Homo sapiens: one gene and its partners. The protein of the gene in region 3 purifies or fractionates together with the protein of the main gene of each other region. This does not show direct contact. Each region holds a gene or a part of one and is shown on either strand. Other genes may lie near its edges.

What was found.
Region 1: the proteins of MMP3 (region 3) and MGAT1 purify together in Homo sapiens (co-immunoprecipitation; one large-scale study listed by IntAct). This does not show direct contact.
Region 2: the proteins of MMP3 (region 3) and MAN1A1 purify together in Homo sapiens (co-immunoprecipitation; one large-scale study listed by IntAct). This does not show direct contact.
Region 4: the proteins of MMP3 (region 3) and TIMP3 purify together in Homo sapiens (affinity purification with mass spectrometry; 2 studies listed by BioGRID and IntAct, with this or other methods). This does not show direct contact.
Region 5: the proteins of MMP3 (region 3) and DKK3 purify together in Homo sapiens (co-immunoprecipitation; one large-scale study listed by IntAct). This does not show direct contact.
Region 6: the proteins of MMP3 (region 3) and KIAA0319L purify together in Homo sapiens (affinity purification with mass spectrometry; 3 studies listed by BioGRID and IntAct, with this or other methods). This does not show direct contact.
Region 7: the proteins of MMP3 (region 3) and CHST12 purify together in Homo sapiens (co-immunoprecipitation; one large-scale study listed by IntAct). This does not show direct contact.

What each region holds. Positions count from the first base shown.
Region 1 is NC_000005.10:180,785,807-180,789,306, forward strand, and holds part of MGAT1 (alpha-1,3-mannosyl-glycoprotein 2-beta-N-acetylglucosaminyltransferase), read right to left. Parts: 3' UTR 1-3,500. UniProt on the Homo sapiens protein: Initiates complex N-linked carbohydrate formation. Essential for the conversion of high-mannose to hybrid and complex N-glycans.
Region 2 is NC_000006.12:119,346,962-119,350,956, reverse strand, and holds the start of MAN1A1 (mannosyl-oligosaccharide 1,2-alpha-mannosidase IA), read left to right. Parts: upstream 1-1,195; 5' UTR 1,196-1,415; intron 1,416-1,669; coding exon of another isoform or gene 1,670-1,891; coding exon 1,892-2,494; intron 2,495-2,500; exon of another isoform or gene 2,501-2,587; coding exon of another isoform or gene 2,588-2,623; intron 2,624-3,995. UniProt on the Homo sapiens protein: Involved in the maturation of Asn-linked oligosaccharides. Progressively trim alpha-1,2-linked mannose residues from Man(9)GlcNAc(2) to produce Man(5)GlcNAc(2).
Region 3 is NC_000011.10:102,837,956-102,840,609, forward strand, and holds part of MMP3 (stromelysin-1 preproprotein), read right to left. Parts: intron 2,639-2,654; coding exon 2,474-2,638; intron 2,298-2,473; coding exon 2,153-2,297; intron 1,289-2,152; coding exon 1,155-1,288; intron 756-1,154; coding exon 596-755; intron 1-595. UniProt on the Homo sapiens protein: Metalloproteinase with a rather broad substrate specificity that can degrade fibronectin, laminin, gelatins of type I, III, IV, and V; collagens III, IV, X, and IX, and cartilage proteoglycans.
Region 4 is NC_000022.11:32,853,705-32,857,204, reverse strand, and holds part of TIMP3 (metalloproteinase inhibitor 3 precursor), read right to left. Parts: intron 1-3,500.
Region 5 is NC_000011.10:12,005,827-12,010,000, reverse strand, and holds the start of DKK3 (dickkopf-related protein 3 isoform 1 precursor), read left to right. Parts: upstream 1-1,374; 5' UTR 1,375-1,418; coding exon 1,419-1,631; intron 1,632-4,174. UniProt on the Homo sapiens protein: Antagonizes canonical Wnt signaling by inhibiting LRP5/6 interaction with Wnt and by forming a ternary complex with the transmembrane protein KREMEN that promotes internalization of LRP5/6.
Region 6 is NC_000001.11:35,547,404-35,550,903, forward strand, and holds part of KIAA0319L (dyslexia-associated protein KIAA0319-like protein), read right to left. Parts: intron 1-3,500.
Region 7 is NC_000007.14:2,402,343-2,406,410, reverse strand, and holds the start of CHST12 (carbohydrate sulfotransferase 12), read right to left. Parts: upstream 2,801-4,068; 5' UTR 2,738-2,800; exon of another isoform or gene 1,381-2,737; coding exon of another isoform or gene 1,311-1,380; intron 1-1,310. UniProt on the Homo sapiens protein: Catalyzes the transfer of sulfate to position 4 of the N-acetylgalactosamine (GalNAc) residue of chondroitin and desulfated dermatan sulfate.

The DNA of each region.
Region 1 (3,500 bases), on a different chromosome or scaffold from region 3:
AGGAGGCTTTTGGCAGGCTTGCCTCATTGCCCTTGCAGGGAAGGCTGCCTGTCTCTAGCCATCTTCCTCTTCTTACAGCTGTGCTGAGACGTTTTTGGCTGGGGCAGGGCTGCTGCACTGAGGGTGCATCCCACCTCCTGCAGGGAAGGCAGCCAGACCACATTCCAGTGAGTGGAACGTGAGGGAAGGCTGTCTGCCCACTGCTTTTGTTCCATAAAGAATGAGGCTTGCCCTCCCTTCCCCTCTCCTGCTTCCTGGTAGCTGAACCAGGGCAGCATTTGCTGTGAGCTGGGAGCCATGTGTTGAAGACGGCGGAACAACAAAAGTGAAGACAAAAAAGAAAACTGCATCACTGGCATGTGCCCTTGTCAGTCAGCACTTCCGGGGCTGTGTGTGGCCTTCAGGAATTTCAGTTTTCATGCATGACCCTGAGAAGACTCAGCCCCCTGCCACAGTAGGACAGGTTTCTCAAACAACCCACTAGGGTTAGGGGCCCGCAGGTTTCATTCTGCCCCTCTCCAGGTCAGGGTTCCTAATGCACTCCCCCCAAAGCTCCCCATCACCCTGCCCTCTCCAAATCCTCGTCACTGTCACAAGCTTGGTCTTCCAGGCACCGTGTATGGCCGTGGTCCCTGTAGTCGCCCATACAATCACTCCCTTCTTAGTAACAGGAATCTTAATTTGATTCAGCTTCAGAAATACTTTTTCCAGCCTCTTTTGCTGACAGGGGTGCCTGTGTGATCCAGTTCTACCCAGGGAATTGTGACCCAGCGCTCTGTGAGCTTCCAAGAGAGGAGGAGGCAGCTGCCATCCACCCTTTACCTTCTTCCTTCCTCCTTCTTCCTAAAACGTGTGCTGGCTGGAGCTCCCGCAGCCAAGGAATGAGACCTGACCTCGTGCTAAGAAGAGTGAGACTGAGACCTGAGAAGGAGCCTGGGCCCTGACGGTGGAGGAACCCCCACACCAGCCTGCACCATCGACCTCTCATTTCCGTCCGGCGCTGGGATCCAGGCTTCCTGCTCTGCAACTGAATCCATTCTGACACACTGTCTTACAGTTCTGGTATAAAGGGTCAGACTTCAAGTTAGCCAAGGGAGGCAGTGGGGGAAAGTAACAGCCTTGGCACTACCCGGCCCCCTTTCTATCAACTGCCCCCGCTCTGCCCGCTCCAGACACATGTGGAGGGGGATTAAGTGTCGAGGGAGCCAAGGTGAACAGCAGGAAAAGGAAAGCAGTGGAGACAGAGATTTCCACCAGGCTTTACTCACAATGCAGCCATACGGATTAATCCCACAGCCACCACAGAAGGTTGTGTTACCCCCGCCTCACAGGAAGAGGCTCTGGCAGGAAGAACAGCTGGACCCGAGTCAGACACGCAGGTCACGGGCCCAGAGCAGGGCCGGCCCAGGCCCACCGCACTCTATGACATCGGCCACCAGGCTGGTCTCCAGGAAATAGGGCCCTGGTGTCTACTTCCTAAACTCCCTGTGAATTGCCAGGGGCCAGAATGTGGGTAGGTGGGAGAACAGATGGAGGCTGAAGGACCTCTGGTGGCAAAACACTGACCTCTACAGAGGTCTCATCAGAAAGCCTGAAATCCCACGTTAGATATTTCAGAAAGAGGGCAAGCTTCTGTTCTATACATTTGTATGTTATTTAAAGTTACACAGCCAGACAAATATGTACATAACACTATGGGTTTTGGTGGTAAATGTTTTATCTATGCATATTATGTATAGATGTGAGGAAGACGTCTGGAAGGATACACCACCCACGCGTAAACACACGTTAAGGGAGCGTGTGCAGTATGTTGTATCTAAAATGAACATGTAATACGAAAAGCCAGTAGCTGGTATTTGTAAAGGGGTGCTCTGTATCTAACCCTCTAAATGCCCCCCACCTCCCACCCTCTTGGCCTGCTCTGAGGGCTTCGTCTCCGTTTCCCTGGCCCCTCAGCCTTGGCAGGCTTCTCATGCAGGGCCCAGTGAAGGCTCAGGAGGGCCTTGGCCAGACTCCATCAGACATTTGTCTCCACTGGGGGCGACTTGATCCACAAATGAGATCCCACCAGTGACCCAGGTAAGAGGATTGCAAAGGCCAAGAGGCTTGAGGAGGGAAGGCTGCCCGGAAGGCAGTCTGTCCTGGAGACAGAGTGAGCAGGAACCCACAGTGAGAGCAGGAGTGGCAGGAGGTGGTCACAGCTGGAGGCAGAAGCAGGAATGCAGCAGCAGCAGCAGCCAGGCGCAAGGCAGCTCTGTAAACCTGCAAACTCGAGGCTGGCTGAACTCTACAGCATTGACTAACACGGGGCTTTTCCATCTGGCATTTCCACTTGCTTTGGTATCCACAGGCGCTTCCGGGCCCGGGGGCAGCCGCCACGCACACACGCATGCCACCTGAGCAAGCCTTGATGGGTGAATACCAGGAGACCCCTGAAGGTGCTCCTTGCTTCAGGAGCCTGAGAACCCAGTCTTTCGTCTTGTAAGGGGGTCCTCTGGCACCGCAGGCCCCAAACTCTACTCCTCCCGCCATCTCTCCTGGACCTCCCCGAGCCACGCAGCCCCCTCTTCCTCTCCACCCTCACAGGAGACCGCCGGTGCCTGGCCTGAGAATCCAAGTGCAGCTGGGGAATGGCCTGGAAGAGGCCGTAAAGGCTGGAATGGAACAGTCCAGCCTCACACAGTGGCTAACAGCACAGAGTTCATTCCAATCCGGCTCTCCCTCAACCATCTGTGTGACCTTGGGCAACTTCACCTCTGTGTGCCTGCTTCCTCACTGGTAAAACAGGAGCAAAACAGTACCCACCGCCTAGGCTTGCTCTGAGGATCAAGTAAGTTGGTACTTATCCTGGAGCACTAAGTAAGTTGGTACTTATCCTGGAGCACTAAGTAAGTTGGTACTTATCCTGGAGCACTAAGTAAGTTGGTACTTATCCTGGAGCACTAAGTAAGTTGGTACTTATCCTGGAGCACTAAGTAAGTTGGTACTTATCCTGGAGCACTAAGTAAGTTGGTACTTATCCTGGAGCACTAAGTTGGTACTTATCCTGGAGCACTAAGTAAGTTGGTACTTATCCTGGAGCACTCAGAACAATGCACTTGGCTAGCTGCATGACATGCTATGCGCATGGAGCGTGGCGGCCAAACTCCTCCTGGCTCCACCGGAAAGGGCACAATGCAGCTATCGCCGGGCCGATTCCACGTCTGAAATCACGGATAATGACCACCTCCCCTTATTTAACAAAAAATATGGCTAAATAATCCATCTAAGCAACAGGGGAAGGCAAAACCCGCTCCACACAAATCTCAAAGGTTAAAATAAAACCAATGTCTGACACTGGTTTCTGAGCCCAGATGGGAGGTTGGAGCTGCTCCCAAGGCCACGGCCCTCGACACAGCTCCCCAGACAACTCTGCCACCATCTGGTGTCGAGCTCCAAAGTAGTTTCTGCCAAGAAAGTTGCCTAGCCCAGGGTTTTTGGTTTGTTTTGTTTTGAGACGC
Region 2 (3,995 bases), on a different chromosome or scaffold from region 3:
ATTAAATGATTAAATGAAAACTAGTAAGGATTTCTGATTACTTTTCTACTTTCTCATACAGCTTAACACCTGGAAACAACTGTACTGGAGCCACCTTCCCGAAAGGTGCCAGCTGTTTCCTTTGTCTTAAGCACAAACAGAACTAATGTCACATTTCCAGAGAAGGGTAAGGATGAAATAAGGCGACTACAAACCAGCTTTCAGAAATGCGAAGTCAGTCAACGTTTTCCTCTCTGATAACCCCTTATTTGTGGAGCAACAGGAGAATTACAACACATTTTGGAAAATAATTTCTATTGGACCAACTCCTCACTTCGCTGGAAGTAGTCGGATCCAAGACTTAATTTCAACACAGTGTTCGACTTATTGCTTGAAGCTACCGCAGCATAAAACTCGTCTTCGAATGGAAAATTTGACCAACTTCTATGAGGTAAATGAATAGTGAAAGTACGGGTGGGCGGGAGAGACATACAAGTTTTTTCGGTTTTTTGTTTTTTGGGGGAAGAAAGGGCGCATACGAAAAAAGTCCTAAGCAAGCACAGAACTGTGTCTCTTAGGATGTAAAAGGATGTTATACCAGAGAGCTCAAAAGCTCCCAGGGTCACGGCTCCCCTAACCGAGGGACTTGGGGTTTCACTGCTACCAGGCACCCGGGGAACCCCGGCCTTGGATAAAAAGAGGGTAACTGGAGTAAAGCCGTGCTTCTGAACGACCCAGCGCCCAGGACCCCCTGCCAGACCCCGCCTTTCCCGGGACCCCCTCGGGAGCGCCCCCGACCGCCCCGCACGGGTCGGAGGAGGAGGCAGAGAGGTCCCGCGCGGACCCAGGCGCCTCCCGGGCCAGTCGAGGATCAACCACCCCGGGGACCCCTGCCGAGGCCAGCGCAGGATAAACTCCCCGACCCCGAACTCTGCCTGCCGCTTCTCGGCGCTGGGCCTCAGCCACGGGTTCGACCGTCCTCCTCACCGCGGCTCCCGCCTACCTCGCGCCTCCCGGCCCCGCGACCTCCCCGCCGCCGGCCGGGCCCCGCCGAGGCTGCGCTTCCCGTAAACTCCCCGCCCCGCGCATCCCCCTCCTCGCCTCGGCCCCGCCCCCGCGGGACCCTGGGCGGCGCGTGATTGGCCCGGCCGCGCCGTCACTCTCCGGCCGCGTCGCCTCCCTCGCTTTCCACCGCCCCAAGACCGGCAGTGAGATTAGTGCTCGCGGGGCCGCGGCGGAGTGTACCGTGCTGCTCTACTCGCTGCCATTCGCCCGCAGGTCGGCGCGCTCGCCCACCTGAGCCGCGCCGGGGCTGCGGGACCGTGGGACAGCGCGCTCAGCCCAGCCTAGGAAAGAGGCAGCAGTCTCAGCGCGGAGATGGGGAGCGGGCGAAGTTGACGAGTCTCCCGCCCACGCTGCGCCCCTCCTGCCCAGAGGTGCGCTGCCCCTCCCCGAGGTGCTCGCGCGCTGCCCTGACCCCTTCCTGCGCGGGACACCCCTCCCCTACCCACGGGACCTGATAACTTCACCCCAAGTCCAGAGAGTGGGCTGCGAGGGCGGTGCCCGGACTGGACAGGACTCTGCTTAAGGGGAGCGGTCCTGGAGGCTCGCCAGGAGTCGGAGGGCGGAGACCCGCTGGAAACTTTATCATCGCCGTAATTACTACGTTTTACTGTTTCTCTCCCCGCAGGGGCTGCAGCCAGCGGTCTGTCGCGCGTGCCTGTGTGCCCGAGGAGCCGCCCCGGGGAGAAGACCCGGCGCGGAGTTGTTCCCCCAGGGAGGATCCGCAGCCCAGCCGAGGGGGTCGGGCGGCCTGGCTACGCAGGACCCAGCCCCGCAGCCGCGGACTCCCAGCGGCGGCGAAGTTTGGCTGCTGAGCGGCGCGGCGCCGGACCACTGGACAGCGGGAGCGATGCCCGTGGGGGGCCTGTTGCCGCTCTTCAGCAGCCCCGCGGGCGGCGTCCTGGGCGGGGGGCTCGGCGGCGGCGGTGGCAGGAAGGGGTCGGGCCCCGCCGCCCTCCGCCTGACGGAGAAGTTCGTGCTGCTGCTGGTATTCAGCGCCTTCATCACGCTCTGCTTCGGGGCGATCTTCTTCCTGCCAGACTCCTCCAAGCTGCTCAGCGGGGTCCTGTTCCACTCCAGCCCCGCCTTGCAGCCGGCCGCCGACCACAAGCCCGGGCCCGGGGCGCGCGCCGAGGACGCGGCCGAGGGGCGAGCCCGGCGCCGCGAGGAGGGGGCACCCGGGGACCCGGAGGCCGCCCTGGAGGACAACTTGGCCAGGATCCGCGAAAACCACGAGCGGGCTCTCAGGGAAGCCAAGGAGACCCTGCAGAAGCTGCCCGAGGAGATCCAAAGAGACATCCTACTGGAGAAGAAGAAGGTGGCCCAGGACCAGCTGCGTGACAAGGCGCCGTTCAGAGGCCTGCCCCCGGTGGACTTCGTGCCCCCAATCGGGGTGGAGAGCCGGGAGCCCGCCGACGCCGCCATCCGCGAGAAAAGGGCAAAGATCAAAGAGGTGAGTGGGCCGCGCCAGAAATCCCTCCCGACCGGCCGTGTTTTTCAGGGAGAAACGGCAAGCCTTTGAAACTCTGAAGACTGCAACAATGCAATGTATGGGGAGATGGAGGTTTGCCCCTTCCACCAGGTGCTGTGTCAAAAGCTCTTTCTTTTCCTGTTTCCAATATAGTAGTAGATGTGTCCAGTAAGATCTAAGGTCAAATCTCGTTGCTTTTAATTTGCATGCTCTTGCTCTGGTGACCACAAGCCACACGAGGTGGGTATAAATACATGGGCAGGTAATACGCAAACCTCATTCTCTGGCCGCTACACGGTTAATCGCCCCACCAGTAACAGCGACGGCACTGATCAGCCCCCTGGTAAGGATTGGGGACGTGGCTTTAAAGTGAGTCTTCACGCGTGGTAAAGCTAGCCAGCATACCCCGGGTTCAGCTGTGTGGCCCTTGTCTGCCAGGTGGCATTCTGTGTGTACTTTCAGACTATAAAGGTGAAACCTGAGAACTTCCCATCATCGAGGGATACTATTGTTTACTTTTTTAAAAAATGAAAATATAAAAAGCCAGTCGGCTGCCTCTTGTATTTCTAATGCACAGCCAGAAATAGGGTATTCCATGTGATGCAACAGGTTTGCCTCCACAGCAGCACAATGGTGACAAAGTTAATCCAGGATAAACATGGACTTTGATACATCTTTCCTAATTTCCTTCTCGTAATTTTCAGTTAGAACTTGAAACATGTGATTAGGTCAGGACCAGCTTAAAGCTGAAGGGGGCCGTAAAAAGTCCTTTCAGGCTGTCATTTTCAAGATGAAGATCGAAGGGCCCAGAGCTCTAGAACCCGTTAGTGATGAGTCAGGACTTGAAGCCCGAGGTCCGAACTTCCCCCAGTCACCTGTCACCACGCGGTCTGTGGACATGCCTCCTCTCTGAGCTACTTCCCTGTGTGAAACGGTGCCAGCCTGCGTTTTACATAGAAAAGCTGTAGGAACCACATTAAAAGCATGTCATTCCAAATCTTGGTTCAATTTTCTAAAATATGAATGGAAGTAATATTTTTGCCATTTAAAAAATAATACGATCTGTGAAAATAAATATTGTATTTTCATATTGGGTAGGTAATCAGGAGAGGAAGTCCCTGATCCCATTTTCAGAGAGTAAACAGATTTTTGAGGTGGTTGAGAGGTGTTTAGCTTAAGTGGCTGCAGAATGAAGGCAGCAGGATTGTCATGGGATTTGTGACTTTGTATTATAAGATCAGCTGAATTTGGTTAAGCTGTAATTGAGCAAGTTAAAGTGGACTTGGATCCCTTTCGGTTTAGGAAGAATGTCTTCATCCTTCCTATGCAGATAGCTTCCTTCCACAGTCCATCAGCATATCTGCTTTTCTGAGACCCCTCCTCAGGGACAGAACCCTCCCATACTTGGGGGAATGGATTCTACTTTCCAGAACAACTGTCTAGCAGTTTCCTTTCTCCATGAAATCCTGCCTGTGCTACCAAA
Region 3 (2,654 bases):
GTGAGTGTTGGGTTGTATCCATAAACTGGACTGCTATTGATCATCATCTCTTAAATGAGCCATCATTATCAGGTAGAGGTGACAAGTGGGTGAGGTTAGAGGTAGCCCTTGAAAATCATATAGTAGTGTTAGGAAGACAAAACAAACACACAATGAGACAGTGACAAACACACAGTGAGACAGTGAGCCAAACTAAAAGACAATGGGAAGGGAACGCTAAATTGCGGTCTGGGTTCTCAGAACATTTTCCCAATGGGTCTAAAGTCCACGAGGGAAAGCTGCATGGAGGTGATGAGACTTGAGCCAGGACTTGAAGGATGGGCAAGATTTGAATAGGTTGAGGAGAGAAGAGGGGGCTCCAGGCAGGTGGGGTGACAGCACCAAGGGAAGCACCAGCCAACTGCACTTGGGACTGAAAGCAGGAGAGCCTAAGGTGCTGCTGTTTTAAAGTAAGAACTTTCCCACAGTTGTCTGAAGTCCCATCCTTCCTACTAAGAGAGAAGCAGGCCTAAGGTTGGGGTGGGGGATTTCCTTAGTAAAAGAAACTAATTTCCCTAATTAGGCTCCATACAAAGTCATTTCTCTTGCATCTCACCTCCAGTATTTGTCCTCTACAAAGAAATATGTTTTGTTCTTTTCCTTATCAGAAATGGCTGCATCGATTTTCCTCACGGTTGGAGGGAAACCTAGGGTGTGGATGCCTCTTGGGTATCCAGCTCGTACCTCATTTCCTCTGATAGCCCAGAATTGATTTCCTGTTAAATATAAATAATTCAGAGTCATATTGAATTATAACAGTTAAGCCCTTTCGCTTTAGAAATACACTTTAGCATCTTTGATTTTCATGGTAAAGTAGTAGCCCAAATTTTAGATTTAGTCACCAGCTTACAGTGGGCTTTTCACAAAAATTTGCAGACTGAATGAATGAACTAAGGTCAAATGAGAGAATTTACAACTCTGGGTAATTTATCTTCTTGTCTTTATTTTTATCATCTATGAAATATAAATACAATGATATCAGCCCTGGTTATTTCTTCATTACCGTTGACTACTGTATTAGCCAGAACTTGTAGTAGGGAAAATTAAAGTGTTGTTCAATTTCTTATGAGAGGGTTTACTTTGGCAAGTTAAACAAATGATGATATAGTAATTACCTTTAAAAATGAAAACGAGGTCCTTGCTAGTAACTTCATATGCGGCATCCACGCCTGAAGGAAGAGATGGCCAAAATGAAGAGATCAAATGCAATTCAGGTTCAAGCTTCCTGAGGGATTTGCGCCAAAAGTGCCTAAAATATATGTAAAAAGAAATGTAAATTGAAAAACAATCTTTCACCTTTAGAATATTTTCCTCACCGTCTTGCCTCACCCAGCTTCCCCCATTCTCTCATCTTCTAGGCTGGATGACAGATAGAAATCAGGTATATTGCCATTAGAAAATTTCTTTCCTTTTTCTTCAGAAGACTGTAGTGAGTCTCCCGTCATAGGTTTCCAGAGTAATGTCTTCTATGAAAGAAAAATTATTCTATCGTGCAAATGAATTAGCCCAGCATAAGCTTTAATTACCTGCAATGTATGCAAAACAGTGCGTGTGCTATACCCTCTTCCAAAAGCTAGGCCGTGTTTGTATACGTGTATGTGCTGTGTAAATATATTCTTGTATGTGTGTAGAAAGATTCTGGAAGGATGCACAAAAAGTCTTGACTCTGGATGAGTACAGGGAGAACTGGGAACTAAAATTTTTAATTTGCTTCTCATTTGTGCTCTTTGAATGTTTGTCATGTGCATATTGATCCATCAGTAAGTAAATTACTTGATTAAATGTAATGTTGATCCTGATGTCATTTTTAAAGGAAGTAAAAATAAAATTATTATTCGAAAGATCTACTCATGCCTTTTGAAAAGTAACTGTGACTTAAGACATTTGGAAACAGCAATTAGAAGCTAAGAACCAGATCAGCCTGTGCCTTCAAAAATGAACCTGACAATTTTAGGAAAATGTGGGAAAAGGCAGCACCAGATCTAAATGATTCCAAGCTCAGAAGAAACGTTTTTGTTTTAAATGTCTAAGAATCTCTATCAAGTTTCTGCGTGTTTTCCTTTCTAAACATTGTAGATTAAAATGGTAGGAAAATATAATTTTTCAGCCTGACCTGTCTTTAAAGATCAGGATTTCTCCCCTCAGAGTGCTGACAGCATCAAAGGACAAAGCAGGATCACAGTTGGCTGGCGTCCCAGGTTCTGGAGGGACAGGTTCCGTGGGTACCAGGGGGGTCTCAGGGGAGTCAGGGGGAGGTCCTAAAGGGAACATTAGGGGAAATGTGATACGTTTCAATATATGCCCATTTGTATGCTTTCCAAACATTCTCACGGTGCTTTGAACTAAATCATAAATACTTTATGTAGCATTTGAAAGCTCTTCTGAAGACCATCATTGCAAAACTACAATGGCTGATTTTCCCAGTGTCACTCACCATAGAGGGACTGAATGCCATTTATATCATCTTGAGACAGGCGGAACCGAGTCAGGTCTGTGAGTGAGTGATAGAGTGGGTACATCAAAGCTTCAGTGTTGGCTGAGTGAAAGAGACCCAGGGAGTGGCCAATTTCATGAGCAGCAACGAGAAATAAATTGGTCCCTATTTAAGAAATTGA
Region 4 (3,500 bases), on a different chromosome or scaffold from region 3:
ACACCCGTATGATCCCTAATCCCACTGCTGGGTATGTATCCAAAGGAAAGGAAATCGGAATATGGAAGAGGGGTCTGCACTCTCATGTTGACTGCAGCAATATTCACAATAGCCAAGATATGAAATCAACCTAAGTGCCCATCAACAGATGAATGGATAGACAAAACCTGGTATCTATACCCAATGGAATATGATTCATCCAGAAAAAAGAATGAAATCTTGTCATTTGTGGCAATGCAGCTGGAACTGGAGGTCGTTTTGCTAAGCGGAATAAGCCAGGCACAGAAAGACAAATACACCATGTTCTCACTCATGTGGGAGCTAAGAAAGTAAATCTCATAAAGATGGACAGTGGATTGGTGGTTACCAGAGGCAAGAAAGGTAATAAGGATTGGGGCAAAGAGATATAATTAATGGGTACAAAAATACGAGTACGCAGAACAAGTAAGACCCAGTGTTCATTGAATCAGTAGAATGACTACAGTAAACAATAACTTATTGTATATCTCAAAGTAGCTAGTAGAGGATAATTCAGATGTTCCCAGCATGAAGAAACGATAAATGTTTAAGGTTATGAATATCCCAATTACCCTGATTTGATTACTATACATTTTTGAATATATCAAAATACCACATGGACTCTCAAAATATGTCCATTTATTATGTATCAATAAAATAAGAGGAACACAGGAGAGGAGTCTCAGTACCCAGAAGGCTTGCTGACATTGGATCTGAGGGAATCTCGCTCCCCTATTCAGCTGTCCAGTGGCCGGTCACTGATCTACCCACCCCAGGGCCCCCTTCACCCCAGATGAAGCCACCGATCCTCTTGACTAGCCAGGTTGGTGCCTTCCCAGAGAAACCTTCCTGTGCAGCCAGCCATACCCCCCATTCCAACTGCCCCACAACACTCCTTCGGCTACACATGTCTGACATCCCAGCACCTTTTCAGAAATCCAGAGAAGTAGCTGTGACAAAGGTCCTTTTTCTTTGTCAACCTTAGGACCTGAGTCCCGTGAACTCAGCCAGCATTCTCATGATATCTCTGTGACACTTTCCAGCCCACAAAAACATTCTCACTCACATTCTCCTTGCAGTATCCTTAAAAGAGCCCTGGGAGGGATGTATTACAAACCCCACTTTATAGAAATTCTATTTGGCTGGTGAACGTTGAATTCAAGCTAGAAATTCTCCATGTTTTTTATTCTTCTGAGCGTCTGGTGAAAGCATTGGGTTCGTTTATCCCAGATGAAGCACATAAATGTATCTACAAAGTTCAAAGAGTTTTAACTGTTAAATACTTTATAATTGTTAGATTGAACCACGTGAAATTGCTGATATTTGGCTATTTGTATCTACGACATAATCTAATACAGTGGTTCTCAACTGGAGGCAATTTTGCCCCCCTAGGAAATATTTGGGACATGTGGCAATGTCTGGAGACAATTTTGGTTGTCACAACAGTTCGTAGAGGGTAGGGAGGTTGCTAAACATCCCATAATACTCAGGACAGCCCCCAGAACAAAGAATTATCCGGCCCCAAATGTCAATGGTACTGAGGTTGAGAAATCTCCTTTAATATTAGCCCACGAATCACCATGACAACCCTATGAGGTAGGAACTATTATGCCCATTTTATAGATGAGGAGCCTGAGTCACAGGCAGGCTAAGTAGCTTGTTAAGGCCACACAGTTGGGAAATGGCAGGGCTAGGATTCCAAGCAGAGGACTCTGCCTTCAGAGTCCATACTCTTACCCATTATCTTAGACTGGCTCCCAGGAAAGCCTCAGAAGTCTATGACCAAGGTCCCCAGAAGCAGGCAAATGCTATTTCCATTTATGGCCACTGTGCCTCCTTCAGAGGCACAGTGTGTGCCCAGAGTCACTGGGGTGAATGAATGTAACAGAAGCTGAGTCCGCTTTGTGATTCCAGGTCAAGTCCATGAGTATTACACAAGCCCAGTGTGCCAAGGCGATACTGTGAACTGTGAGATTTGGTAACGGGGGCGGTGGGGCACCAAGGTGTTGCACAATTCTGTTATCCCCTCAGTTCTCAGCGTACACAAGCCCTGGACTGCTGGTGGTCTCTGGGCTTGTCCCAAGGGTTTATAATAGGAAAATGCCTCTACTTTACTTCCTGGCATTTGGTATTAATTTACCTACAGTAATTAATACAAAGCCAGACATCTCTTCATTGGTGTCTCTTCTAAATGCCTCCCATTTGGCCTGTGAGCTGGCGTTTTCTCATCTTTTAAGTGGTGACTGGTTGGCGGGGGTAGGTGGTCCACAAGACCTTCATAGCATAACTTGGTCTGTTGGACCTACTGAGTTTGGGCGCCCCTGCCTTGTTAAAAGCACACATTGTTCTGATGGACTCAGATGGTCTTCCTTCTGAACCTCTCTTCTCCCCCAAGGCTTGCCAACTGAGCACGGTAACGCAGCCAAGTGCTGGAAGAAGTGCCGTCCACACTCAGCATTCAATTACGCGGTGGGGGCGCGGGGTGGGTAGAGTCACGATGATGACTTCTTCTATGTGAATGGTGCCTCTCTAGCCTTAACAGGAACCATGTTTAAGCGTGCTGCTGTATGCCTGCCATGGAGTGTGGCCTTCGAAGAACATCCCCTACCCTGACTTCTGTGCCGAGCAACTTCTTATTTTTGTGTGGGTGTTCCTTGAGGTTTTGGCAAATGTTTCAACTAAGCACTCGCTCTAGGTCTTTTGGACCCAGCCCATGGGAACCTCATTCCTTCTGCGTCAGTCTTTCCCCTTGACTGCCCTAGTGCTTCGTGGGTGAGAGAATGAAGCCCCTGGTTACAGTCTGGTCATTTGAACTGCTCAGTAAGAACTCAACTCATCGAAATCAGCTTGGCACCGCAGCTACTTGGAAGTTTGAAGGAACCTGCATTTTAGCTCCTAGCACTTGCCTAGAGTCGAAATTCTGACACATTACAAATGACTGGCTCTGACAAACATAGCGCTGTGTTTTAGGGTCAATTCTGAAAAGAACAACATGGCAAAGGTAGATTCTACTCAGTTGTGTTTTCTGTGTAATAATCCTACCTTGATTTAAATATTGATTCTAAAAGTATCATGTCTGTAATCATAGAGATCTAGAATTGGTTTGACAAATTTAGGAGAGTTATAATAGGTTTATAATGTCCTGACATCAGAGAATCCTAGAATCTCAGAGTTGGAAAAGATGTTAAAGGTAATCTAATCCAAACCAATGCCATGGAGATCAGTGGTAAATTCAGGTTTTGGAGGCTGACAGCCAGAGTTTGAATCTTCAATCTTCTCTGCCACCTGTGTTCGCCACTTGGAAAGTTACTTAACCTCTTTGGGTCTCAGTTTCTTCATCTGTAAAATGGGTCAAAGCACTTCTTAGGGTGTTTGAGAGAAGCAAATGACTTAGAATAGCAGTCAGCCCACAACATTCAATAAAAGTTAGCTTAGAACAAGTTATACTGAAATTCGTAAGGAGAGGAGGAATGAGTTTGGTC
Region 5 (4,174 bases), about 91 Mb from region 3:
TCTAACTTCTCTGATTCTCCACTACCCACTCCTTATTACGTTTTTGAGACTTGTCAAAGTTTTATATTAGGGCTAACTGGGACGCATACAAATCTGGTAACTTCGCCAGGGCGGGAAGTTAGGAAGGAGCAGAGCTGGCTGCAGGTGTCTGGTCCTGACCACTCCTCTATGCCACCCTTGAGGAGCTTGCTGACTTTCTCATGACGTTCTCCCATTCCAGGAGCTGCAAGTGCGTTATCCTGGCTGGAGCACGGTGTCAATCACGGCAGACTAAGGCCAGCGGTGATGGCTTGAATGCCAGGCTGGGGGCTGGGATTTTTCCTGAGGATTTCACAGGACAGAGGTTGGCTTGGAAAGACCAAGGTGGGACTGAGGAACATTCCCCCTACCCCCAACCTCGGTGGGCTGTTGCAAGCCTGGAGGCCAGAGAAGACGGGCCTGGGATGCCGCGGGCGCAGGGGCAGGCAGTGAAGGAGATGGCTGCCTTCGGTAGAGCTGGTCGCTGAGGCAGAAGAGGAGGGCGTGGGGCGTGGGGCGTGAGGTGGCCGGCGCCCCGGCTGGCCAATGGCCGGGCTGCGGCCCCTCCGCGGGGCGGGGTGGGCCTGGTGGGCGGGCGGGGCTCGGGGCGGGGGCGGAGAGGGAGCCTGGTGGGCGGGCGGGGCGCGTCTTGCGGGCTCCCTCGGGTACCGGCGCTGCCGCACCCCGCCGCGCTCCCGCACCCGCGGCCCGCCCACCGCGCCGCTCCCGCATCTGCACCCGCAGCCCGGCGGCCTCCCGGCGGGAGCGAGCAGATCCAGTCCGGCCCGCAGCGCAACTCGGTCCAGTCGGGGTGGGTGAGGGGCGGCGGCGGGGGAGGGGACGACTCTGCTGAGCTCAGCCTCTCTTGGTGGATGTGGGGCGGGGCGCTCGAGTAGGACCCGACGCCAAGGGGAGGGGGCTGACCTGTGCTTGGTCCACCCCAGGTAGGGGCTGAGAGAGGCTTGAGGTGGAAGTGGGGGTCGGGCACTCTGACCTGGTCGAGGAGGGGCTAGGGTTTGAACCGGGGACAGAGTCTAGGTGAGCTGGGGCTTGGGAGCTATTAGCGTAGAGGATCCGGGTTCGGTTGCTCTGGCGAGGGCTCCAGCATCACAGGTGAGGAGCAGAGCTCAGCTTGTGCTCGAGGATGGGGGTGCGGGGTCCTGGGGCGATCGGGGCTCGGGCTGGAGCGGGTGGGGTCGCGTCTTTTCGGGTGTAGGGGAGCTGCGTTTTCAGGGGCCTCGGTTTCCTCCCGTCTCCGGGCGGGTGCGGGAAAGAGGGGCGCCAGGGGCGGGCGGCGGGGCGGAACGGGGCGGGGCGGCGGGCCCAGCGAGGGGGGTGGTCCGCGCGCCTCTGATCGCGTTCCGGGACACACAGGCGGCGGCTGCGGGCGCAGAGCGGAGATGCAGCGGCTTGGGGCCACCCTGCTGTGCCTGCTGCTGGCGGCGGCGGTCCCCACGGCCCCCGCGCCCGCTCCGACGGCGACCTCGGCTCCAGTCAAGCCCGGCCCGGCTCTCAGCTACCCGCAGGAGGAGGCCACCCTCAATGAGATGTTCCGCGAGGTTGAGGAACTGATGGAGGACACGCAGCACAAATTGCGCAGCGCGGTGGAAGAGGTGGGTGCGCCCTGGCGGCGCGGGGCTCTGAGAAGCGCCAGACTGGGGGCAGCGAAGTCTGGGAAGGCATGGAAGAGCGCTGGCCAGGGACCTCGGGTCCCGCGCAGGGCCTGGGAAGGGCCGACAGCAGATGCGGAGTGACCTGGAGGCAGCGCACGGTGATCCCTACTCCCGCCTCGTTTTGCCTCCTTGCCAAAAAGTCTGGATCTGAGCCTGTCCACCGAGAGGCTCTGCACTGGACCCTCCCTAGGTAGCTGGGGCCACCACCTGCCTGCAGTTGGCGTCAGGCATGCCGTTGGCCTTCCCTATTGTCAGCAGAGGTTTGCAGGGCCCCTGGTATTCCAGCACTGTGGTTTCACAGAAACCCGGGACAAGCTCCAGGCATCGCCAAGTTCTAGCTTGTCCGTTATGCTTTGAGCTTGTTAGGATGCCATGCAGGGACAAAGAGGCAAAGAGCCCTGAGCTTTGCTGGCAGTCTGTCTGGGCTGTCTTGCTTCTCACGCAATGTGGGGGCAGAGAGGGAAGATGGAAATCCTAAATCTCAGCACTGTATGAGTGGCGGATGAGGATGTGAGAGGCAATACCCCCTCCACCCAACGGTGCTTCGCAGTTGTCCTGGGCTCAGGTCCTCCTCTGCCACTCAGTAGCAGGGTGACATTGGGCAAATCACTTAATATCCTGCACCTCAGTTTCCTGTGAAAACTAAATGTCATATGTGTGGGCACCTGGCAAATAATAGGTGCGCAGTATTTAGCAACTATTATCAGATACCACGTACCTTAGCAAAGCTTTGCCTAGCTTCTGCCCTCCATCACCTCCAGGTCTAAACACTGTGGGTGGCATCTTGTTCTGTCCTCTGTGATGGTCACCCACGCATGCCCAGGGCTACCTGGGCAGGAGATGTCACTGGCCCAGCCCTCTCTGTCCAGGTGCGGGGAGCTGTCCCTGGTGCCTGGGGTGGGTAGACGAGGGCGCTGTTGGGCCCAATCTGTCTGTAGCCTGTGTCTATAGAGAGGAGCCAGCCGTCCTAGTGAAGGAGGCAGCAGGAAACCAATGTCCAGGCTGGTTGGCCCCTGGTCTGGCTTCACATCCCTGCTGTCTCCAGCTTGGTATCCCCCTTGGGCAAAGCCTTAACTGCTGGCCCTTGTCTCCAGGGGGAAGTTGCTTTCTCCCCGCAGCCCTTTGTAGTTTGGGGCTATTTCCCCTCCCACTCCACAACAGTTAGCCTGTGGAGTTTGCAGTGAAGGGGACACTGGCTTGGGAGGCAGTGAAATGGGCAGCTGTCCTTGAATATCCACTGGACAGGCCCAGATCCCAAGACCCATGATCTTTCTGTTTCCTGTGATTGCAAAACAATCATGACATGGAGCAATTAAAGGGTGAAGGGATTCAGATAGGCCCCAATGTCTCTTAACTCTGAAGCTTCAAATTAAGTGGAGTTTGCGATGCCTCTGGTTCTAGGGCAGGCCATCTGCTTTCCTTATCCAGGTTCTAGGACTTTCCCTCCTGCACACAGATTCCCGGTAAGACTGACTAAGTCACCTCTATGTTTTTGTGCCCACCACTGTTCAGAAAGTCTGCAGCGTGGTCCTCTGACGTTAGCTTCTGCTGAGGGAGGAGAGAGAGCAGCAAGGGCCTCTTCAGTCTCTTCTTGAGCAGAGCAGTGTGGGGCCCTGCAGGACCTAGTGACGGGGTCTTCTCCATGGGCGTTATCCAGACTGGATTTTGCCAAGACCCCAGCTTTCCTCCCTCTAGATGTGGCTCTGTGTAGGTTGGGGGGTTGAAGTTTGCCACCAGAGGAGATGTGGGCTGTCACTTCTACCCCACTCTTTCCCAGAGGTGTCCTCGCTGGCAGTGGGTACAGGATGAGAGAGGTTGAACACCATGGCAGGAGAAGAGGCAGTGGGGACTGATCTTCCCTCATCCAGTCCCTGCTCTGCCACTTACTGGCAGTGGCGTTCCGAGTCTGAAGTGGAGAAATGTCCACCTCTTAGGGTAAGGTGAGAATTAAATGAGATGCTGCAAGTAAAGCAAATCAGTGAGTTGGGCAGCTATCCCTGAATATCCACTGGTCAGGTCAAGAGCCCAAGATCCATGATCTTTGTTTCCTGTGATTGTGAAACTATCATGACATGGAACAATTAAAGGGTGAAGGGAGTCATATAGGCCCCAATGTCTCTTAATTCTGCAGCTTCACATTAAATTGAGCTTGTGATGCCTGTGGTTCTAGGGCAGGCCATCCGCTGACTGCCTAAAATGGGGTTAAGTAAAACACGTGTAATACAGGTAGCTTCATTGTGAGGTGGCTGTAAGGATGACATGATGGTTGGTTGTAAATAAGTAACAGGTATCATTATCATCATATTACTAGTAGCAGTATGAATGATAACAAAACACCACCAGTGTCTGATAGATTCTCAATAGAATCTATCTTTTAAAATATCTTAAACCATTAAAAATTAATCTTAAAATACTAAAAGTATCTTTTAGATATCTTCAAAAATAGAATACAATAGATTGTTTATAGACTGTGGTTATTAGTA
Region 6 (3,500 bases), on a different chromosome or scaffold from region 3:
TTAAAAACATATGTTCACACAAAAATGTATACATAAATGTTAAGAGCAACATTGTTCATAATAGCCAAAAAGTAGAAACAACCCAATGTCCATCAACTGATGAATGGATAAACAAAAGTGGCATATCCATAAAGCAGAATATTATTCAGCCATAAAAAGAAATGAAGTACTGATACCTGCTAGGATATGGATGAACCTTGGAAATATTATGCTAAATGAAATAAGCCAGACACAAAAGGCCACGTATTGTACGATTCCATTTATGAAATGTCCAGAATAGGCAAATCCATAGAGTCAGAAAGCAGATTTGTGGTTTCTAGTAGCTGGGGGAGGAGAGGATAGGGAGTGACTGCTAATGGGTACAGGGCTTCTTCTAGGGGTGAGAAAAAAGTTCTGGAATTAGATAGTGGTATATCTCAATTTTAAAAAACTTCTTGGCCAGGTGCAGTGGCTCACGCCTGTAATCCCAGCACTCTGGGAGGCCAAGGTGGGTAGAATGCTCAAGGCCAGGAGTTTGACACCAGACTGGCAACATGGCAAAACCCCATCTCTACTAAAAATACAAAAATTAGCCAGGTGTGGTGGTGCACCCCTGTAGTCCCAGCTACTCGGGAGGCTGGGGTAGGAGAATTGCTTGAACCCTGGAGGCTGAGGTTGCAGTGAGCTGAGATCGTACCACTGCAGTCCAGCCTGGGCAACAGAGTGTGACTCTGTCTCGAAAAAAAAAAAAAACTTCCTCTAATCTCTCTACTACAGAACATCTAAATTCTACCCATCTCTTTAGGACTACCTCTACTTGTTTGTATTGAATGAAATTACTGAGAGGTTCCTTGAAGACAGAGTCTCATCAACTTTCTCCTGGACTATTTCATTAACATGCTAATGGATACCCTAACCTCTAACCCTGACCTCCCTCCCTTTTCCATCCATCTCCATCTCCACAATTACCACTTTTCTATACTCCTGCAAAAATTATTCAGAAATTTACCAGTATTATAGTATATTTAATACAGTATTAATAGTTTTATATTTAATACTAGCATTAAAGTATTATAGTGTTTGCCTTAAGAGGTGCACAAGACAAATCCCTCGGGCATGAAAAGAAAATATTAGAACTCTTCATATTTGCTTCTGTCAATCCCTTTAACATTTTGTTTTTGGCATCTCTTACACATATATAAGACATTAGTATAAAATTACGTGTTATAATGTATAAATTTATATACAGGGGTACATTCTCAATTTTTCAATGGATTAAAGTGCATCATGAAAAAAATTTATAGACCATCTACCTAAAAAGTTTAAAATTGAAGCTTCTTAGCATAGCATACAAGATCCTTTGTGACCTAGCCACCACCTACCTCTTCTGGAGCTGCCATACCAGCTTTGCTCTTTATATTCCAGTAGTGCTAAACTGCTTGTGGAGTTTCTTCTATATACCAGGCTGTTTCACTTTTGTGCCTTTGCTCTTGCATTCCCATTGCATGGGAATACCCTTTGAATCCTTCAAATTCAACCTTCACAACTCTGTTCAGGCATCAGCTTCTCTAGAAGATGCTTCTCTAGAAAGAACTCCTTAGAGCACCCTCTTTGCCTCCAAGCTAAATGCTTCTCCTACGGTTCCAGTAGCACTCTGTGCGTTGCATCTTTTTTTTTTTTTTTTAAGAGACAGGGTCTCCCTCTGTCACCCACACTGGAGTACAGCGACATGATCACAGTTCACTGCAGTCTTGAACTCCCGGGCTCAGGTGATCCTCTCATCTCAGCCTTTCGAGTAGCTAGGACTACAGGTGCCCACCACCACCAGCTAATTTTTTTTATTTTTGTAGAGATGAGGTTTCACTATGTTGTCCAGGCTGGTCTTGAACTCCTGGCCTCGGGTGATCCTCCTGCCTCAGCCTCTCAAAGTGCTAGGATAAGCCAATGCACCTGGCCTCTACCTTTTCACTTGCTACTGGTAGTTATTCCAGAGAAAGGATTGTATTGTACTAATCTTTATTATCCTGGTGCCTAGTCTAGAAGCAGACTCCTAGTAAGTTCTCAAAAAATGGTTCTGAATTGAATAATTTATCTCTGTACTCAAAATACGTATTAACTAACTGTATAATCTCCTTCCCAGAGGTAGGGAAATGTCAGTACAAGTTTTCATAGCCAACTGTTAGCTCTGGGCCTAAGGACATTGGCTTCAGTGATTCTCCCTGTTTCAGATTTCTAGGGCCAATTAGGTCCTTGCATCCCCCACAAACATGCACACATAACTCTTCAGATGTATACATTCTTTCTTTGTATGTGTTAATATATTTGTTAAGATTTTAGTCAATCTTGTTGGTCTCAAAAGCATTGGTCTCCTTAAAGTGCCTTTCCATATCTCTGCTCTGATTTTGTTGTTTTTAAAGCTTAATTCTCAAAGAACAATTCCCTTATTGGTAATTTATTAATTTATTCAGTCAACAAATATTTTATGCATCTACTATGTGCCTTGGTACCCGCTAAGAATATCTAGCATAACTAAAAGAGGCAACATGTCTGCTCTCAAGAAGCTGACAATCTATTGTAGGAATTTCCAAAACTCCTGGGATCACTTCCTATTTGTCTCCAGATGAGAATCCCCAGGTCCAAAACACTATTTTTCAAGCCACTTAACAATAAAATTAAACAGAAAAATAGCCATTCCATGGCACACAAGGAAAACACAGACAGACCATCTTTTATCAAATTGTAATCAATGCTTTCTAACAGTAGGGCTTCAGTACTGAACCCAAAAGTGGAAATAAAAAAGCTCACCATGTCTAAGTCAACAGCTGCCTGGGGCTCTACCAAAGATGGAGCAAACTCCTAAGTGGTAAGCGGGAGTGGAGGATAACTGCAGAGCTGCCTTAATTTGGTTAGTTTTTCAGAAATAATCCATGAGCTAAATAACAGCAGGAATCAAGAATGTATTTTATCGGAAAAAAATGTAAACACTCAGGTAAACACTGAGTAAACTCATGAGTAGAGAAATACTGACTCAGGCTCCCACCAATAGGTTTTTGCTGTTATTATTTTGTTGTTGCTTTTTCAAGTAGGTTGTTTTCCCCCTTATATAAAAAGGAATACAAGTATACCAAAGAAAGGCCTGGAAAACACAGAAAAATATGAAGAGATAATAATTCCTCTAGTCAAAAAAATACATAAATATTTAGTTGTACATCTTGTTTCAGACTGTTTTCTATTACATAATTTTTTCTTCTTTTCACAAAATTGACAGCATATTGAATATGTAGTTGCATAACTTGATTTTATCATTTAATATTAGGAGCATTTTCCCGTGTACTTTTTTTTTAAATTATTAAACATTTTTTAATTCTAAAGAGACAGGGCCTCACTATGTTGCCGGCTGGTCTCAAACCCCTAGGCTCAAGCAATCCTCCCATCTTAGCCCCCGAGTAGCTGGGACTAGAGACGTGTGCCACCACACCCAGCTTTTCTTTTAAAATATGAATTTTAAGACTGGATAGTAT
Region 7 (4,068 bases), on a different chromosome or scaffold from region 3:
GTACTCAACTGTGCCCCCACCCCATACTCAACTGTGCCCCCACCCCGTACTCAACTGTACCTGTCTCCCATTCTTCTCTGAAATATCTTTAAAGTTTCTAAACAGTTACAGAAACCACCACCTTAACAGCAGGAAGTAATAAGTTGGAGAGTCAATTATCTCCAGGCACATCTGTGGGCCAGGGCTGGAGAACCACAGTCCCGCCTGCAGCCACAGACCCACTAAGCAAGTGTGAAACTAACAGCTACTCTCCGAAAAGAAAGACAACTTAAGAATCGAAACTCAAGATGTACGGTTTTTTTAAATGACAAACAAGCCGCATGTGTTTCAGTATCATCAATAACCCGTCTTTTCCCACTGATGGCTCCTTCAGCCCCTGACCCACACTAGAAGAGAATCACCTGCCAGCCTCAATGACTGTGCGTAGTCAAGGAACTGCACGCCCAAGGTCAGCCAACCAACGGGCCTCTCTTCAGCTCTGGATCCCTTCCCACTGGGGTTCCTGGGGATTCCCTCCTTGTACAGGCTGTCTCTTCTCCACCAGGTCACATCTCCTCCAGGATGGCCACCAATACCGCCAACTCTGCAGGTCTAAAACCCACGTGTGTTTGTGTGGCCCTTCCTCTCCCACCTGGCCGCAGCGCTCCTCATCGCAGGTGAGAAGTCCCGGCTGCCCTCGCTGTTACAGGTCGCCACATCTCACAAAGCGCCACCGCCCAGTGGATTTGGCAACATCTTTCAGCTCCATGCCCGCCCCCACTCTCTCACTGCCCCAGACCCACGCCCCACAAGGCTACTCAACTCAGCTCCACTGCCCAGAGGCAAAACCCACCTCCCATATTCTCACCACGACCACTTTTCTGAAACACATCTAATCGCGTCGCACCCAAACCACCACCAAAGGGATAAAAGTTTAAACTCCCTCACACAGCATTCAGGCCCCTGCACAATCAGAAACCCATCTTTCCAGTCTTTTTTTTACTCTGTTGCCCAGGCTGGAGTGCAGAGGCCCAGTGTCGGCTCACTGCAACTTCCGCCTCCAGGTTCAAGCTATTCTCTTGACTCATCCTCCTAAGTAGCTGGGACTTCAGGTGTGCACCACCACGCCCAGCTAAATTTTGTATTTTTAGTAGAGATGGGGTTTCACCATGTTGGCCAGGCTGGTCTCGGACTCCTGACCTCAGGTGATCCGCCCGCCTCTGCCTCCCAAAGTGCTGGGATTACAGTCACGAGCCACCTCGCCCGGCCTTCCAGTCTTAGCTTCCAACCCAATCCTCAAACCCCACTTCATCAAGAACACGGCGACCCACCATCTCCCCCAAACATCACTTTCACTTCCACATCTCTGCATGCCCTTTGCCTCCAAACGCCCCAATTCATAGGTCCTCTCCACTGTGGAAAATGTCGGAAAATGTCGCCACATTCTGTTAACGCCTGCACCACAGTCTCAACTCCACACAGTTGTAGCCAGGCTGGCCGTGAGCTCCCAGGGCAAGGCCCACGCTATTACCGGCATCTACCCCAGCTTAGCATCTTGCACTCGATTGGAGGTTTGATAATAAAGCTGGAGTCAGCTGAGTGACAGCAGACAGTTACTGCTGGCCCCAAAGCGTCAGCCCAAAGTCCCATAAACTCCTTTGCAGGGAAATCAAACATCTATGCCATTCCAGGCAGGTGCTCTTTCAGATCTCAAGCGTTGCACCTTCGTGTAGCAATCTCCTCATTACCCCTGTTTTCTCTCCATCCTCACTCAGACACCAGCCCTGACTCCCAACACCAGATGCTCACGGTGAGGGGCTAACCCGGGTCCCCGCGTGGGGGTAAGTGGGGGACCCGCTGAGCTGTCCCCAACCACCCACAGCCGGGAACAGCACCGTAGGGCCTGGTGTCCTGGAAGATGTACTGCGTCCAGCACCGCGCCTGCAACTCACATTCCTATTCACCCCGGGGCTTCCGAGTCCCCACAGCCCCGCTTATGAACTAAATAATTTAATAATGCTGGAAACACTATGGCTTGTTGTGCTGCCTGCCAGACGGAGCCTCTGCCCGAGCCAAGGCTTTGCCGGCGGTGTCTCGGTGGCCGGGAGCCCGCAGAGGAGGTCTAAGTCCCACTGTTCCCGGACTAAATGCACGGTTTCCTCTCCCAGAGGGGCAGGGCTGCGGCTTCTGGAGTGAGAGGTCATTTAAGGGATACCCTGAGCGACCTGCCGGTGCTGCTGGCGTCTGCAGGCTCCAGGGCTGCGGTCGGCGGGGCCGGGGAGCCCCGTTCAGGTGACAGCAGGCACACGGGGGCCCTCGGGAGCTGGGGATCCTGGAACTCCAAGCCCGGGAATTGGTCCTACCCCTGCCGGGCGGCAGAGGCTGATGCCGGGCAGGGGGACTCCTGGGGGCCGGCGGGGCCGCTGCAGCCTCTGCTGTCGCTGAATCAGAACCACAGATTTCTCGTCCAGACCCCGAGGAGCCGCAGAACGCGCTGATCAGGGCCCCAGGGCTGGGTCCCCCTGGCCGAGGACGACGAGCGGGGCTCAGAGAGGGCGCGCGCAGGGCCAAGGTCACACTGCGCGCCGGCGCGGGAACTCGAACCCAGGCCCAAGCCGCGCCCGCCAGGCCAGGTTAAGGAGAGCCGACCCGCGCCCCTCAGCGCGGCCCGGGACCCCCGCCCGGGCCCTGGGAGCCCAGCACTGGCCGAGAGAGAGGGAGACCGCGCCCCGAGCCCGCCGCCCGCCGCGCCCCTCACCTCGCGACCCTCACCTCGCGCCCCTCACCTCGCGCCCGCAGCCGCCGCCGCCGCCCCGCGACTAGCGGACCCCCCAGAGGCAGCCCTCGCCGGCCCCGCCCCCGGCGCAGGAGCCCCTCCTACCGGTCGTCTTCTCGCGAGACGTCGCGGCCGCCGGAGGGGCCACGGAGGCCGAGGGGCGCCCGCCCTCAGCGCGCCTGCGCCCGGCCAGCCCGCCCGCCCCCGCCCTCGCGAGCCAGTGCCATGTGGCGCCGTATTTACGGCCAGAGATCGACTCCGCCCACCGGCCGCCACGAGCCACGCCCCTTTCTCAGCAGCCAATCCGCGGCGTTGACTCCGCCCCGGCGGACCGGGCGCGCGGCGGCTCGGGGACGCGCAGCTGTCTCGCCGTTCGACCCGGGAGCTCCACGTTGCAGCCAAACACGATCCCGTTAACCAACCTTTATGCAGTGCCTGTTGTCTATCCGACCCTTTCTCGAGCATCGGCTCATTGGCAAAGGATCGTGATGCTCACCGGCTGGGGCTTGAGACTCGCTGTGTGACCTTGGGCAAGTGACTTAACCTCTCTGAGGTTGTCGCCAATCCGTAAAATATAATAGGTTAGTGACCCTACCTTTCAGGGAGTATGTGAGACAAACGAGATGACACGGGTAAAGAGCTTAGCAAGATGCCTAATGCATAGTGAGCATGCAGTAATTGTTCTTGGCATCAATGTAGTTTTGTGTGTTTGTTTGTTTATTTTTTTAGAGACAGGATCTCACCGTGTCGTCCAGGATGGGGTGCAGCGGTGCAGTCACAGCTCACTGCAGCCTCGACCTCCTGGGTTCAAGCCATCCTCCCACCTCAGCCTCCCAAGTAGATGGAACTACAGACAGGTGCCACCACACCCGGCTAATTTTTAATTTTTAATAGAAACGGGGGTCTCACTATGTTGCCCAGGGTGGTCTTGAACCCCTAGACTCAAGCAATCCTCCTGCCTCAGCCTCCCAGAGCTCTGGGATTACAGGCGTGAGCCACCGCGCCAGGCCCAGTCATTTTTTTTTTAAATTATGGTAAAATATATAGAACATAAAATTTACCATCTTAACCTTTGTTGTTGTTGTTGTTGTTGTTGTTGTCGTTGTTGTTGTTGTTGAGACAGAGTCTCGCTCTGTCGCCCAGGCTGGAATACAGTGGCCCGATCTCGGCTCACTGCAAGCTCCGCCTCCCGGGTTCACGCCATTCTCCTGCCTCAGCCTCCCGGGTAGCTGGGACTTACAGGCGCCCGCCACCACGCCCGGCTAATTTTTTGTATTTTTAGTAGAGACGGGGTTTCACCGTGTTAGCCAGGA